2 separate regions of the Homo sapiens genome follow, and region 2 is reported to be linked to region 1. The links are microRNA targets in miRTarBase. Many come from high-throughput screens and were not tested one by one. Region 1 holds a microRNA gene; the other region holds the end of a gene's coding sequence.
Evidence for each region. The annotated mature microRNA hsa-miR-7114-3p reads UGACCCACCCCUCUCCACCAG and lies in region 1 at 1,274-1,294, opposite strand. An mRNA with a match to its seed (bases 2 to 7 or 8) in the 3' UTR can be bound and repressed. Matches are read on the target gene's strand: a 7mer-m8 pairs with bases 2 to 8, a 7mer-A1 pairs with bases 2 to 7 and ends in A, and an 8mer does both.

Region 2: the mRNA of RGS11 is a reported target of hsa-miR-7114-3p. Seed matches in the 3' UTR shown: 7mer-A1 at 482-488.

Annotation. Positions count from the first base shown.
Region 1 is chr9:137,448,753-137,451,901 of GRCh38, forward strand. MIR7114 (microRNA 7114) reads right to left here and starts at 1,334; the gene lies at 1,274-1,334. NSMF (NMDA receptor synaptonuclear signaling and neuronal migration factor) reads right to left here. Exons shown (of 16, transcript NM_001130969.3): 13 at 1,424-1,503; 14 at 1,171-1,273; 15 at 847-922; 16 at 1-739. The coding sequence ends at 642. RefSeq lists an enhancer at 517-1,716.
Region 2 is chr16:266,510-269,509 of GRCh38, reverse strand. RGS11 (regulator of G protein signaling 11) reads left to right here. Exons shown (of 17, transcript NM_183337.3): 16 at 1-7; 17 at 127-1,203. The coding sequence ends at 241. It also overlaps a transcript of FAM234A not described here. Among named protein-coding and RNA genes, the nearest start is that of RGS11, 7.9 kb to the left of the region's middle.

The DNA.
Region 1 (3,149 bases):
AGCAGGGATGGGGGGTGGCAAGAGGAGTGTAAGTGAAAGCACAGACAGTCGGAGACTCGGCCAGTGTAGACAGACCCAGAGACTCGGCCAGTGTAGACAGAGCCAGGCTGGGCAGCCCGGCGACGCTGGCCCCACGCACACGGGCCACCCTGGTGCTGGTGATCGATACGGCAGGGAGGGGGTGGGCAGGGAGGGTCCTGAACACATGTGGGCTGCTGGGCTGCTGGGCCGGGGTGCCTACACTGTAACTAGCAGCATAGTGCTTAACTAGTTAACAAGAAATGCTGCTTCCCTTTGAATTGTTTCGGGGGTGTAGAAATTGCACTTATTTCTATGAACCCCATGGAGGGATGCCCACAGCTGAGCCTCCAGGCGAGGCATGGCAGGTCAGTGCCTGGCCGCTGAGCATCCACGGGCCACAGGGCGGGATCCTCCCGGCCCCCAGGGACTGCAGCCTCTGCGGCCACGGGTGCAGCGAGGACCGGAACCCACAGGGGGAACCTGAGCAACGTCTGAGGTGCCCTGAAGTGGCTCCAGGCGAGACCGGAGCCACACAGTCCCGGGGAGCACGAGGCGGCCCAGCCCCAGGTCCCGGTGCAGAGGGAGTGGCCTGATGGTGACTGGGCGGAGGCCTCTGCCCCTCACAGGACGTCGTCAAAGTCCAGCAGCTTCGAGTGCTGGCGGCTCTTCCACAGGCGATACAACCGGAAGTCAAAGTACGTCTCGATCATCTGCTTCCCTGGGCGGAGCGGGGGCAGGAGGCTCAGGCCTGGCCGGCCCTGGGGATCCCACCCCACCGTGGCCCCGCAGTGGCTGCAGAGCTTCGGCCCAGCCTGGGTAACTCACCTTGGGCTGAGAGCTCCAGGGGTGACTCGAAGGTGACCCTATAAGGAGTCATGAGGGTCCTGAGGTTCTGGAACAGCTGGAGGAAGCGGGGTGCCATGAGTCCGAGGCAGAGAGATGGGGAAGGAGGAGCGGGGAGGAGATGGGGAGCAGGGCCCACCCTCTTTTTTCAGACCCCCCAAACCTGGCTGGGCTCAGGCATAAAGGATTTCTAGGGGAATGCCCGGGGGAAGGAAAAAAAATGCCAGGAAACATGGAAGGCTCTGCCCTGTCTGTCCACGTCGGGGGTTTCCAGAGGTCTGGGGTGGGGCTTGGGGGTCACTGTACCTTCTCTCCATTGGGGTTCCCCAGAATGTAGCAGCCCATGATGTGGATGACGTTCGGCTCTGGGTTCACTTTGCTCATCAGGCGGCTCAGCCGCTTCCAGAAGCTGGTGGAGAGGGGTGGGTCACCCAGTGGCAGGGGACAGGCACCCCACTCCACAGAGCGGACCGTGGAGGAGGGGCTGTGGGGGAGGGACATGCCAGGGCCTGGACTCTGCCTCCAGCCCTCCCCGCGCCCAGGGCACCCGGCTTCTCACTGAATCATGTCCTCTTCCTTCTCCACTTTGGCAAAGGTGGCCACCTTGTTCTTGAGGAGATAGAGGTGTCCAGGACCTCCCTGTAAGAAGCTGTGGTCAGGCATCTGCTCCTCCTTCCTCCCCCTCTCCGACACACATGCACCCACGCACATGCGTGGGAGGTAGTTTTGGTCTTCATCCCCCGGCCACGCTTCTTCCCCTTGATCTCCCCCACCACACGTCTTTCCCTTGATCTCCCCCACCACACGCCTCTTCCCTTTGATCTCCCCCCCACGCCTCTTCCCCTTGATCTCCCCCACCACATGCCTCTTCCCTTTGATCTCCCCCACCACACGCCTCTTCCCTTTGATCTCCCCCACCACACACCTCTTCCCTTTGATCTCCCCCACCACACGCCTCTTCCCCTTGATCTCCCCCACCACACGCCTCTTCCCTTTGATCTCCCCCACCACACGCCTCTTCCCTTTGATCTCCCCCACCACACGCCTCTTCCCTTTGATTTCCCCCACCACACGCCTCTTCCCCTTGATCTTCCCCCGCCTCTTCCTCTTGATCTCCCCCCCTCGCCTCTTCCTCTTAATTCCCCCCAATGCCTCTTCCCCTTGATCTCCCCCACCACACGCTCTTCTCCTTGATCTCCCCCCAATGCCTCTTCCCCTTGACCTGCCCGCCACGCCTCTTCCTTTTGATCTCCCCCCCACACCTCTTCCCCTTGATCTCCCCCCCACGCCTCTTCCCCTTGATCTCCCCCTCCACACGCCTCTTCCCCTTGATCTTCCCCTGCCCCTCGTCTCTTCCCCTTGATCTCCCCTGCCACGTCTCTTCCCCTTGATCTCCCCCACCACGTCTCTTCCCCTTGATCTCCCCTCCACGTCTCTTCCCCTTGATCTCCCCCTCCACACGCCTCTTCCCCTTGATCTTCCCCTGCCACACGTCTCTTCCCCTTGATCTCCCGCGCCACACGCCTCTTCCCCTTGTTCTGCCCTCCACGCCTCTTCCCCTTGGTCTTCCCCACCACACGCCTCTTCCCCTTGGTCTCCCCCGCCACGTCTCTTCCCCTTGGTCTTCCTTGGCCACACGCCTCTTCCCCTTGATCTCCCCACCATGCCTCTTCCCCTTGATCTCCCCCTCCACACGCCTCTTCCCCTTGATCTTCCCCTGCCCCTCGTCTCTTCCCCTTGATCTCCCCCGCCACGTCTCTTCCCCTTGATCTCCCCCGCCACGTCTCTTCCCCTTGATCTCCCGCGCCACACGCCTCTTCCCCTTGTTCTGCCCTCCACGCCTCTTCCCCTTGGTCTTCCCCACCACACGCCTCTTCCCCTTGGTCTCCCCCGCCACGTCTCTTCCCCTTGGTCTTCCTTGGCCACACGCCTCTTCCCCTTGATCTCCCCACCATGCCTCTTCCCCTTGATCTCCCCCTCCACACGCCTCTTCCCCTTGATCTTCCCCTGCCCCTCGTCTCTTCCCCTTGATCTCCCCCGCCACGTCTCTTCCCCTTGATCTCCCCCGCCACGTCTCTTCCCCTTGATCTCCCCCGCCACACGCCTCTTCCCCTTGGTCTTCCCCCGCCACGTCTCTTCTCCTTGATCTACCCCCCAAACACCTCTTCCCCTTGGTCTCCCCCAGCCACACGCCCCTTCCCCTTCATTTCCCCCCCGCCACACGCCTCTTCTCCTTGATCTTTCCCCCTCAATGTCTACACCTCTTCTCCTTGGTCTTCCCCAAC
Region 2 (3,000 bases), not on the chromosome of region 1:
AGAGACGGTGAGCCCAGGCAGTGCCCTGTGGCCGGCGGCTGTGGCCTGGGGGCTGCTGGGGCCCTGCAGTGAGGTGGGCAGGACACCAGCTGGCCAGCCTGTTCTCAGCCGCCTTCTCGCCCACAGCGTGTTCCCGTTTACGTGGAGGCCACGGCACTCGAGCCCCAGCCCTGCACTCCTTCCCACCCCTGTGGAGCCCACAGCGGCTTGTGGCCCTGGGGGTGGAGATGGGGTGGCCTAGTGGACCTGGCCCATCTGCCACTCTAGTCCCTGCAGCTCAACGTCCTGCGTGAATGCAGCAGCCACCCCCGTCTTGGCCCAGGTCCTGGGGGCTGCTGAACCCAGCACCAGTGTCCCCTTGTGCCCAGGGGGCCCAGTCTTCTGTGGGGTGCACAGCCTCCCTCCCTCCAGCAAGCCCTCCCTGCCCAGAAGGAATGGGTCCAGGTGTGGATTCCCAGGGAGGGGGTTCATTGGCTCAGCTTGGGTCAGGGCAGAGCCTGTTACCTGAAGAGAGGTGAGACCAAGGCCACAGGGAGCTCCACCTTCTCTGGTCTTCAGTCCAGCACTGGGTGCCCATCCCCATCTCTAAAACCAGTAAATCAGCCAGCGAATACCCGGAAGCAAGATGCACAGGCGGGCGGCTTCCCACACACCCGTCACAAGACGCGGACATGCAGGTCTCGGCGCGAGCTCTGCCCCGTCCAAGAGCCTCTCCGCTGTCGCCCAGTGTGAGCCTGGAAGAGGACCCAAGAGAGTGCCGTGCTGAGGCTGCCTCGAGGTCACTGCCTTCCGGAGCTGCGCCTATTCCTCCCTCGCCAAACGCGTTCCAGAATTTGTCCACAGGTGCGCCGGCACCTGCTTTCCCACCTCGAGGCCGCGGCCTCCCCCCCGATTTATAGACAACTCTGACATTGTCACCCCACTGACGAGGCCCGATTCCATAGGGTGGATCCTTGCCAGGCGTCCCTGATCCTCCCTGCCCAAGTCTTCCTTCGTGAGCTGGCCTTGCTCCCCATCCCCCAAGTGCCTCACCAGTCCCCCAGACTGGGTGAAGGTACAGCTGGCTCCTTTCGGGGGTGCAGCTTCAACTCTCTCGGCGGTAGGGCGGTGCCATCCCCACCCATAGGGCTGGCTCACATCCAGTCACTCCCAACAGCGTCCAGCACACAAATAAAAGACCCTTGGGCCCTGGCTCTGAGCCCATCCTGCTGTGGGTGCAGCTTATGGTGTGACGGTGCATGTGACACATGCATGGGTGTGTGTGCGTATGAGGCATGTGTAGCACTGAGGCACACGTGTGGTGTGTATGTATAGCGTGTGTGATTGTGTGTAGTGCACGTGTGCAGGTGTACTGAGGCATGCATATGTGGTGTGTGTGTGCACGTGTCGTGTGTATGAGGCATGTGTAGCACTGAGGCACAAGTGTGTGTACGCATAGCATGTGTGATTGTGTGTAGCACCCGTGTGCAGGTGTACTGTGAGGCATGCATATGTGGTGTGTGTGCGTGTGTATGAGGCATGTGTAGCACTGAGGCACACGTGTGGTGTGTACGCATAGCATGTGTGATTGTGTGTAGTGCACGTGTGCAGGTGTACTGTGAGGCATGCATGTGTGGTATGTGCATGTGTCGTGTAGGATGCATGTGTAGCACTGAGGCACACGTGTGGTGTGTACGCATAGCATGTGTGATTGTGTGTAGTGCACGTGTGGTGTACTGTGAGGCATGTGTGGTGTGTGCACGTGTTGTGTGTATGAGGCATGTGTAGCACTGAGGCACACGTGTGGTGTGTACGCATAGCACGTGTGATTGTGTGTAGTGCACGTGTGCAGGTGTACTGTGAGGCATGCATATGTGTGTGCACGTGTCGTATGAGGCATGTGTAGCACTGAGGCACACGTGTGGTGTGTACGCATAGCACGTGTGATTGTGTGTAGTGCACGTGTGCAGGTGTACTGTGAGGCATGCATGTGTGGTGTGTGTGCACGTGTCGTGTAGGATGCATGTGTGGTGCACATTGCATGTATGAGGTGTGCACATGTATAGTACATATGTGTGAATGTATTGTGCATGTGATGTGTGCAGTGTGTGGTGAGGGAGGGGGCAGGTCCCAGGTGTGTGGAGTCGATGGTGGAGGAGGGACTTGACCCTCTCAGACCCAGGCAGCAGACTTGGGGCATCTGGTCTTTGGGAGGAGACAGCCAGGGCACTGTGCTCTGGTGGGCTAGGGTGAGCAGGGTAGTGTGTGGGGACGCCTGCCCTCCAGAGGGGGAACAGTGAGGAAACTGTTAAGGAAGCCTCTGGGGAGGGGCAGTTGTCCCCAGCCTGCCCTAAGGCCACAGAGCTGCAGAGGGCATGGCATGGCATGGCCCAGACTCTCTAGGGCCCGCAGTGACCACAGGGCAAGAATCCCTTCTTCACAGTCTGGGGGTGCAGGCTGTTCCTGCAGGGAGGGAAACTTCTGCCCACCAGCAATGGCACCCCTTGGCCCAGCCCCTCAACTCCGGCTTCTCAGGGTGGGGCTCATGGCCCTGCCCACCCCTCCATGGCCAGGGGCACAGCTGCTCCTCTGACCTGCAGGGTGACCCCTCCCTTTGGGGACCCCCTGCCCTCCCTCCCGTGCTGTCAGGGGGCAGCTCTTGCAACCCCAGTGAACCTTCCCTTCTCCCTCCAGCCCCACCCTGCCCGCCTGGCGGTTCTCACTTATAGGACGCGTCCGCAGAGCCCTATATGGCCCTTTCATACCCAAGGCCTTCTGGGCTGAGTTACTTTTCTCAGGGACAAGAGAACCGCTTCCTGGCACGAGGGCACCCACCTGTTCAACCTCATCCCCCACGTCCCCCTACCACGCCTTGGAAGGAGCAATGGGAACAAGGTTACACCTGTGTGGCTCTGAAGCGGGGCTTTTCACACTTGCATACATGGCCGTGGGACAGTCCTGCAGGGCTCTCTAAAGCACCTGCCTGCCCCTCACTGCCGCCACACCCAAAGCTGCATCTCC